Regions from separate parts of the Homo sapiens genome. Here region 2 is linked to region 1. Evidence: fine-mapped expression QTL. A gene starts in region 1. The other region holds a variant in brackets. All regions are shown on one strand. Distances are between the middles of the regions.

Region 1 (5,000 bases):
TGTAAATAACTTCAAATATCCAAGCCTTCCCTCACCCTTTTCCCACCTCACCTCTCCTCCTTCTCCTCCCCTACACTGGAGGACACTATGTACATGCATATAATGTCCTGCCCTAGAGGAGTCCTGAGCCTACTTGGGAAGAAAACACCAACTCACAGGAAAACAGCAGAAATCACACAAAACAGAATAAAAGCAAGCGCTGATCTGTAAGTGAAGACTTAAGTGCTATAGGACTTCCAGCTACAAATCCTGAAAACACGGAGTGGCTGTGATAATACGACTAGCCAACATCACACAGTAATTTTGCACATAAGGAGAACTAAATCAAAGAAAACAAGGAAAAGAAAGTTGAGCCTATAATCGTGATACAGGCACTAAAATCTCAGGTGACATTTTTCAATGGGGGAAAGTCAGTCAACTTCCGATCTCCAAACCATCTTTACTAGCGAGCTTCCCACAATGGTTCTAGAACCTTCCTTCATTCCAACCCAACCAGGATTCCAACAGACTCATAAACACCACAGCCTTTGAGAAATTAAAGGGAGAACCCACCAACCGGCGCCCCACTCCCCACCCCAAGTCACCTCTGGCTCAACCAAGATGCGCTCAGGCCAAGAAAGCTGCCCCACCCCACAGGCTTTGCCTGTCATTTTTAACAAGCCGACTCAGCACATCTCTCAGATGGGCCATGCAAGGCTTTTCGCAGCTCCTGGGGCTTTGCCTCTTCATGAGCAGACACTCCCTCTTAGACTAAGACCTGGAGCTGGAAAGTAGGTGGTAACCGCGGTACAAAACTCACGCTCGTCCCTGCAGAAACTGCCTAGGTCGGCCCATGGCCACGGGGCGCCAATTTTTCAAGGAAAAGTCAATGCTAATAATGGTGGCAATCACGGGAAATCCATTCTGAGGCCAGATCTGACTTGTCAGGATTAATCATCATTTCCACTTAACTTCGAACTGACCTGGGTAAAAACGTGAGCGCGAGGGGACCAGGCTGCACCTCTGACCTGGCTCCCCTCTGCAAAAATCGCGAAGTGGGTGCCCGAGGTGGGGCGGGGGTTGGGGGAGACCTCCCCGGGAGTCCCCACCCAGCCTGCTCTGCACATCTTAGTCCCTCATCCGCTTGCGCTGTGCAAATCTGTCTTCTGTCATTTGTATCGCAAGACATCAAAATCCCCAACCAAATGCAAATACTGAGACCTCATAATCTGAGACAAAGTTTCACGGTATCCAGAAAGCCCCCAGCAGGTGTGCAGTGCAGAGCCAGCCCCCCAGCGGTCTTCCGCAGAATCCTATCAGTTTCCCCCTTTCGTGCTGTGTGCATCGAGCAGGAAGGGGCTTGGCAGGTTTTACCTGCCCTCTTTCCTTTCTGAAAAGTCTGGGCCTCCTCACCCCGAAAGGAGTCACCTCCTTGCAGTTCCCCAGTTGCGAAAAGAGGAGGAAGTTGGCTGGGCCGGGGGCCGCGGGGGGCACCCTCCGCAGATGGCGGGACCCCCCTGCCGGCCATGGCAAAAACGAGGCTTGTCTCTCCCACCGCCCCCAACCTTAGTCCTTGGCACATTGTTGAAAGTAATTGAATAAAATCGGAAATTCGAGAAGGCGTTCGTTCGGATTGGTGAGATTTTGAGGGGAGAAAGAAGCGGGGACTTCGCCGGCACCAGCGGCGCCCCCTCCTCGGCCACCGTTAACCCCCATTCCAGAGGGCACTGCCCCGCCACCCAGCCTAGGTCCCCCTGCGAGAGCCTCGCGGGCCCGCGCAGCCTCCGCGACTCGAACAGATCTTCAGTCCTTGGAGGAATGCCTGTTTCTCTAACAATAAAAAATTAAAGAAGCGCTCATAAATGCCAAGTCCTCTCGCACTATGCGGAGTACAGAGGACAACGACCACAGCCATCCCTGAACCCCGCCCACGGCACAGCGCCGGAGCCGGGGTCTGGGGCGCCGCTTCCTGGGGGGTCCCGACTCTCAGCCGCCCCCGCTTCACCCGGGCCGCCAAGGGGCTGGGGGAGGCGGCGCTCGGGGTAACCGGGGGAGACTCAGGGCGCTGGGGGCACTTGGGGAACTCATGGGGGCTCAAAGGAACTAGGAGATCGGGACCTCGAAGGGGACTTGGGGGGTTCGGGGCTTTCGGGGGCGGTCGGGGGTTCGCGGACCCGGGAAGCTCTGAGGACCCAGAGGCCGGGCGCGCTCCGCCCGCGGCGCCGCCCCCTCCGTAACTTTCCCAGTCTCCGAGGGAAGAGGCGGGGTGTGGGGTGCGGTTAAAAGGCGCCACGGCGGGAGACAGGTGTTGCGGCCCCGCAGCGCCCGCGCGCTCCTCTCCCCGACTCGGAGCCCCTCGGCGGCGCCCGGCCCAGGACCCGCCTAGGAGCGCAGGAGCCCCAGCGCAGAGACCCCAACGCCGAGACCCCCGCCCCGGCCCCGCCGCGCTTCCTCCCGACGCAGGTGAGCCCGCCGGCCCCGGACTGCCCGGCCAGGAACCTGGCGCGGGGAGGGACCGCGAGACCCAGAGCGGTTGCCCGGCCGCGTGGGTCTCGGGGAACCGGGGGGCTGGACCAACACACGTCCTTGGGCCGGGGGGCGGGGGCCGCCTTCTGGAGCGGGCGTTTCTGCGGCCGAGCTCCGGAGCTGGAATGGGGCGGCCGGGGAAGTGGACGCGATGGCACCGCCCGGGGTGCGAGTGGGGCCGGGCGCGCGCGGGAGGGGAAAAAGGCGCGGGCGAGCCGCCAGCGCGAGGTTTGTGGTGTCGCCGATGTCCCTTCGGGGTACTCTAGCGCAGCCGCCTGGCTACTTGACCCACTGCCACCAAACGTTTTAAATTCACCGAAAGCTTAGCTTCGAAGCAAAGCTCCGTTTCGCCGGTGAAGCAGGAAGCCTTCGCTGCAGGAACTGACCTTTACCTCTTGGAGCGGCTTCTGCAGAAAAATCCCCGGGCAGAGATTTGGGCGGAGTTTGCCTAGAACTAACGCGGAGCCAGCCGATCCCGGCCTACCCCGGGGCCAAGATTTCAGTGGCTTCCCTTTTTCCTAAACACTTCACGAGGGTCTGTTTCCGGGCTGTGCTCCCCGCCTAGAAGGAAAATTTTTAGGACCCTTGTTCGCGAAGAGGTGGTGTGCGGCTGAGACCCGCGTCCTCAGGACGGTTCCATCAGTGCCTCGATCCTGCCCCACTGGAGGAGGAAGGCAGCCCGAACAGCGCTCACCTAACTAACAGCTGCTGAGAGCTGGGTTCCGTGGCCATGCACCTGGGACTGCCTTGAGAAGCGTGGTACGGCCGTGTCCCCATGTGACCTTAGAGTCCCTTTCGAAACTGCTGTGCACAGTCGGTCACAATTTCAGACACTGGTGAGAAGGGTGGAGGAACCCTCTGGGGACAGCCAGGCAAGGTCGACCACCCATCACCTAAGGGTGGAGAAATTTAAGGGGTGAAGAGTCCCTTTTGCCTTTTCTGGATCCTGGTGATTCACCTAGTGTCTTCCCTAAGGAACTGAACCAACTCCTCCGCTGGCCTCTGGCAGCCCTCCAGGCGGTGCAGGATGGCGTGGGCCCGGTAGGAAGCTGCATGTAACCGCCCAGGGTCGGGAGGCCAGGAGGGCAGCTCCTCCTCTGACTTGAATATTGAAAACAACTTCGTCCTGCTTCTGAGCCCCTCTTAACCCATGACCCCCTAGCCCATTGGGGAGTAAATCTTAATTTACTCCTCTTCCTGAAAAAGGATCTTTAAAACAGGTAGCTTCAACTCAAGCTTTATAAAATAACAATATAGGGTTTCTCGGAACTGTATTTTTCTCAGCTGATGGTAACTGGACAGGTCTGTAGAAGGGTGTATGACCTGGGTTTGGCAGGTGGAAGAGGGCAAAGGATAAACCCCTCCTCCTGCAGCCCCATATTCTTGGCCAGGTGTATTGTTGTAAACCAGGAGAGAGTTTACTTCGGGGAGTATCCTGTTTTCCACTCAGTGAGGGCCAATGAAGAATGTCTAATTCCATAAGATGCTTTTGTTAAAATCGGAATGTTGCTGTCCTCGGTGGTTCTGCTGTTGGGACGGGACTGGCCTGAGCTGTGGGTGCTGTAGCAGGACAACCAGCTCACCTAAGGGCCTCCCAGTCTGGATTATCAATGGGTCAGTGCTGAACCTGGGCTAAAATATTGTTTTTTCCAATGATGTTGTCTTTCCCAAGCTCAGTGAAGCTAAATGTTTCACAGGCCTATGTCAATCTGATGTAACTTTCGTGGCCACCTCTCTCCTGTTAGCCTCTGACCAAGGTGGCACTGGATGGTTTCTGCCTGACCTTGGTGCCCCGTGGCAGCGACTGTGGGTCATGAAAGACATTCACTACGAGCCTGCTTCTGGAGTCCATCAGAAAACGGGATGCAACTTGCCTAAAATGAGGAGAGGAGGATGCTTTTAAGAAAAAGAAGAAGGAGGATTCACTACCAGCTCTGAAGGGTGGAAAAGAGATGATTCATCCGGATTGTGGAGAGGGTGGAATCTTGTTTAGGAGAGCGTTGGTTGTGGCAGGCAGGGTGTAACTATGAATCAGTGAAGACAATTCACATCCTGGGATGAAAAGAAGGCCATGGGCTCACAGGAGATTATCCACTGGCCTCTCCACATCCGCTTGCAGTAAGGAGTGTGGGACTCTCCCAAGCTTCAGCGCTGAACTGCAATGCAGTGACGTCGCTTAGCTGGGCCAGTAACCGAGGGAGTTGAATTTTCTGTCATTTTAAAATAATGTGTCTTTTAAGAAACACTTTGAAATTAAAACCACAGCCCACAATTATAATGCACTGTTGCAGCACTTATCAAAACAGATATGCTAACTGAGCCATCAGTGCCAGCCTGACAGTGAGGCCACCAAGCCATCCACAAAGCCTACACGAAAGTCTGTGCTCACAGTGGCTTTTCTCCATGAAGAGGGCATTCCTAACCTCTTCCTTTCACGTAGGAGGAAGCAAGGTCCTTTGTAAAATTTTAACTCGGGGTGCCTCAAATGTAAACTT
Region 2 (5,000 bases), 21 kb after region 1:
GCCTGGGGCAGGTTGTGCCACCAAGAAAGAGGCCAGCAGCTGTGAGCAGGTAGTTGATTCTGTCTAGTTTAGAAAGGGGTATCAAGTCACTTTATCCTGGCTTTTGAAGCTGACATTTTTATCTGCCTGTCCTGTCTTATTTCTTGTTTCATTCTGAACTGTGGAGGGGAGCTCGGGGGTGCCCCCAACCAAACCCCAACATAAACTCCATGAACACACAGGACATCTCGGTGCCCATCAGTGCCAGGTGTCTGTTGAATCTGCATCTGCAGAATCAAGAAAGGAGTGGTTTCCTCTGCCTCAGGTGGCGGGGAAAGCTCCTTGGTGGAGAGGACATTTGAAGGAAGCCTTGAGGGACACTGGGTGAGGACGAGTAGAATTCGCTGAGCAGGCAGCAGGGCAGGCTGAGGATGCCAGGCGGGAGCCAGGGTGCAAGTGAGTGTTGAGACTCGCGGCAGCCATGGGGGAGGAAGCCCAGAAGCAACAGAAGTTTCCCAGCCCACCACCCACGCACATGGGCCCTGAAATGAAGAGAGAATTAACTCATCTTCCCAGAAAGTGCTAGGACCATACAGTACTCCACTGCAACTATACCATTTTACATTTCCACTAACAGTACACAAAGCCTCCAGTTTCTCTACATCCTCATCAGCACTTGTTATTTTTGGTTTATTTGATAATAGCCATCTTGATGGGTGTAAGGTGGGCTGTCATAGCGGTTTTGATTTGCATTTCCCAAAGGATTAGTGATATTGGGCATTTCTTCATGTGCCTATGAGTCATTTGTCTATCTTTGGAGAAATGTCTACTGAAGTCTTTTGCCCACTTTTGAATCAGCTTGTTTTCTGTTGATACTGTTATTGTTCAGTTTTAGCAGTTCGCTATATATTCCAGATATTAATTCCTTATCAGATATGTGATTTGCAAATATTTTCTCCCATTCTGTGGATTGCTTTCTCACTCTCTTTAGTGTCCTTTGAAGCATAAAAGTTTTTGATTTTCATAAAATCCATTTGTCTATTTTTTCTTTTATTGCCTGTGGCTTTGGTGCCATAACCAGGAAATCATTTGCCAAATCCAAGTTTGTGAAGTTTTGCCCTTTGTTTTCTTCCACAAGTTGAATTATTTTGGGTCTAACATTGAGGTTTTTTACTCATTTTGAGTTTATTTTTGTATATGGTGGAAGATTAGGGTCCAACTTGATTGTTTTGCATGTGGATATCCAGCTTCCCCCACTATATGCTGAAAAACTGTCCTTTCCTCATTGAATGGTCTTGGCACCCTTGTGGAAGATGACCATACATGTAAGTGTTTATTTCTGGCCTCTGTGTTGTATTCCATTGGTCTATATGTCTGTCTTTATGCCAGTACTAAACTGTGTTGATTACTATCACTTTGTAGTATGTTTTGAAATCAGGAAGAGTGAGTCTTTAATTTTGTTCCTCCTTTTCAAGACTGTTTTGGCTATTTGGAGTCTCTTGGGATTCCACTTGAATTATAAAATGGATTTTTCACCCATTATCTTTTGCTTTTGGCCTTAGCTAGTGTTATGTCCCTTGTTTGGGCCTTCCTTTTCCACCTCAAATCATTCAAAATGCAGCTCAATTCCCACCTCCAATATTTCCCTGACTATCCCCACCATATTGATCTCCCTCCCCTGCGCCGCTGTTCACCTATCTCCTGCACCACCCATTGGAGACAGCATCCCACCAACTCTTCTCCCCTGTCCTTACCCTTCAAGCCTCAGCTGAAATGTCACTCATCCTAAAGCAGGGCTCTCTGTTGGGCTTTCTTGTAACATCTTTTCTATAAAGAACTCACCGTGATTAGTAATTAATTTACTTATAAGTTAATTCTTACACACACAGATTCTAAGACACACAATTCTTTCCCATTCTAACACCTGTGAAATAGAGAGCCGTGCTTTACAATTGGCGACATCCAACAATGACAGTCAGGCTTTTACTTCAGTGGTACATACATGGTGATATGTCTTATGATCAACCGTACTTTAGATGCAGTGAAACACAGTACATGTTTTCTTGTGCATTTACCTGTTTAATGCTCATCTTGTTGATTGTAAGTTGAGAGAGAATAGACCCCCAACTCAGCTCACCATCACACCCCAGCGCCTTTGGCATAGTTCATGTGCTTGTCAGCCATTTGATGGGTTGATGAATTATAAGTTCATCAATCATATTAATGAACTTATCAACATCAACTCATATTGATGGATTATAAGCTACTAAACACATTACGCTTTCCCAGGAGCCCCATAATTCCTAGAACAGTGCTACCTGCACTCAGATGCTTACCCAGTGCATATTTAAGCTAGATAACATCTATCACTCAGCTGCTCTGTGCTCTCTGGTAGAAATAAAAGGATTA[A/G]TAATGCCTCATTCTTTTAGAGGAAGAAAGCCAAGTAAGTACTGTCGGAGAACCCAGTGGTTCCTGCTTTCTTTTCCTTGGCAAACAATAGGCCTGGCCTTTGTAAACTGAAATCTACACACTTCAAATATTTTATTTTGCTTTTGTGGCATCACACAGTGCCTTGGGGACATTACACAGGGGCCATATTAGAAAGTGATGTCAACTTTTTTTCAAGAGGGTTGGTGATCCTATCTGTTAAGAAAATGACACATTTCTACACTCTTAATAGCTGCTAACCATTTATAAACACATTGTCCCTACATATCAAATAAAACAAATCTTGGATAAGCAGGAAATTAAATTTGTCCTCTTGTGAGGGGACACTGAGTTCCTGGTCTGGGCTTGTCAAGGATGAAAACATGGAGGAGGCGCTTGGGCCAGATGAGCACAAGTTCTTCAGCACCTGCCCTGTGCTGACAAAGGGGCCCGCAGGGAGGCAAAAAGAAGCAAGAAGAGGCTTCATAGGAACCAGGTTGTTTCATTTCTGTTTGTTTATTCTCTCCCAAACTCAAAAGAGGAGGCCTATTTTGCGGTTGATTCTTGCACCATTTGAGAAATTCACTCGTTATGTAAATGTTTCTATTCGTAGTAAGTAGCTTTTGCAAAGAAGGGGAAATAATGACATTAGTAGTGAAAGATTTTTTCCCTAATCTCTTGAGGATCAAAACCTGTGTAAATTACAATATAAATGTCACAGCAATGGCAAACTGCTATACAAGTTTCTAAGTAATAATAACGGGTGCCATTTTTTGAGCACCAACTATGCACCAGCACTGGTTTAGGCTACTTCATACACTGGGTCATGTTGATTCATCTTCGTAACAATCCTACGTAATCTCCATGTACATAAGCTCATGAAACGGGGGCAGTGTGGGCAAGCCACTTACCCCAGGGCAGAGAGCTAATAAGGGCAGACCAGTGATGGAAACTCAGACTTTCTCTCAATTGTCCTGAAGAAATAGGTGTATTCTACTTATCTAGCAACGGCTGCTGGTGGCAGGGAGTCTGCTGGCAGGAACTGGCTGGTCCTGCACCATCTCTGCTCATTCCTCCCATCACAAGGGGTAAGGGTGGGGAGGAAGGAAGAGTAAAAAGGACACTGTGGTGGTGGGGGCTGGTTACTGATGGAGAAGAGCCATCAGCGATGGGGACTGAGGGGAGGGAAAGAAGAAATGATACCCAGTCACTCGATTAATGACAGAGGTACGTTCTGAGAATTGTGTCATTAGCCAATTTTGTTATTGTGGGAACATCATAGGGTGTACCCACACAAACCAATGGAATAGCCTACTGCACACCTAAGCTGTGTGGTGTAGCCTATCGCTCCGAGGCCACAAACCTGTACAGCATGTGACTGTACTGATTACTGAAGGCAACTGTAACATAATGGTAAGAATTTGCATATCTAAACATACCAAAGGTATGGTAAAAATATGGCATTATAATCTTATGGTACCACCGTTGGATATGCAGTTCATCATTGACAGAAATGTCTTTATGACTGCATTAGGCAAAAGTGAAATTAAAAGGAAAGGATAGGAAAGACAAGTGAGAAGAAAATGTAGCCAGTAGAAGCCAAGAAAGAAAAGAGCAAAGGAGGAATCAAAAAGGTAATCCATGGCTAGGCATGGTGCCTCACGCCTGTAATCCCAGCACTTTGGGAGGCCAAGGCAGGAGGATCACTTGAGGCCAGAATTCAAGACCAGCCTGGCCAACATGCCCATTTCTATGAAAAATTTAACAATTAGCCAGGTGTGGTGGTGCACGCCTGTGGTCACAGCTACTTGAGAGGCTGGGGCAGGAGGATCACTTGAGCCTCGGAGGTTGAGACTGCAGTGAGCTGTGTTGGCACCATTGCACTCCAGCCTGCGTGGAAAAAAAAAAAAAAAGTAATCCATGAACAAATCCTGTTCAACCAACACCAAAAGCAGCAAAGCCTCCCAGGCTCAGTTCCTGGGTTCTGTGGCACCATCTCTCCGTCTGTCCTCCCTGTAGGACACAGGTATTTTAAGGAGCTGGAGAAGGGAGCCCAGGGCACATCTGTTCCTCCTCAGTCTTCTTCAGTCCCAGCCTCCCAAGAGTTCGCAGGGCTAGTCGCCTCACAGTGTCGCCCACCAGCTGACTCCAAGACGCACCCTTCCCTGCTGCACTTTACATGGATGGCTCGCTTAACAAATTTCCAGCATCCACCAGGTCCTCCAAAGGGTTTTATCTAACACTTCTAACATCCAGCCTTAATTTAATCTGAACTCTTCTTCCCTTCCAGGAAGTTACTTCCCATCACCTCATAGATGCATTTCCTGGCCACCTTCTCAGAGACACACTCCACAGACATCCCACCCACTACCTTTGGAAACCACCACATCCTGAAGCCACTTCTTGACAACTCTAGTTGGGTATATGTAATGGGTTTAAGCAAAAGCTGTTCTCCAGGAACTTCTGCCCACAGGTCATGGTTGTCCTTTTGGTGGACATACAAAGCCAGCCTAAACTTTTTGACACACACAAATATATACACACACATACATACACATATGACTGTGTTTACACACACACACACACAGCTGGTT

The links.
Region 2: its variant is fine-mapped to the expression of GJB2 in nasal epithelium (TOPMed, PIP 0.98).

What each region holds. Positions count from the first base shown.
Region 1 is chr13:20,190,225-20,195,224 of GRCh38, reverse strand. GJB2 (gap junction protein beta 2) reads left to right here and starts at 2,287. Exons shown (of 2, transcript NM_004004.6): 1 at 2,287-2,442.
Region 2 is chr13:20,169,061-20,174,060 of GRCh38, reverse strand. No RefSeq gene overlaps it. Among named protein-coding and RNA genes, the nearest start is that of GJA3, 11 kb to the right of the region's middle. The variant A/G (reference allele first, on the strand shown) is at 2,389.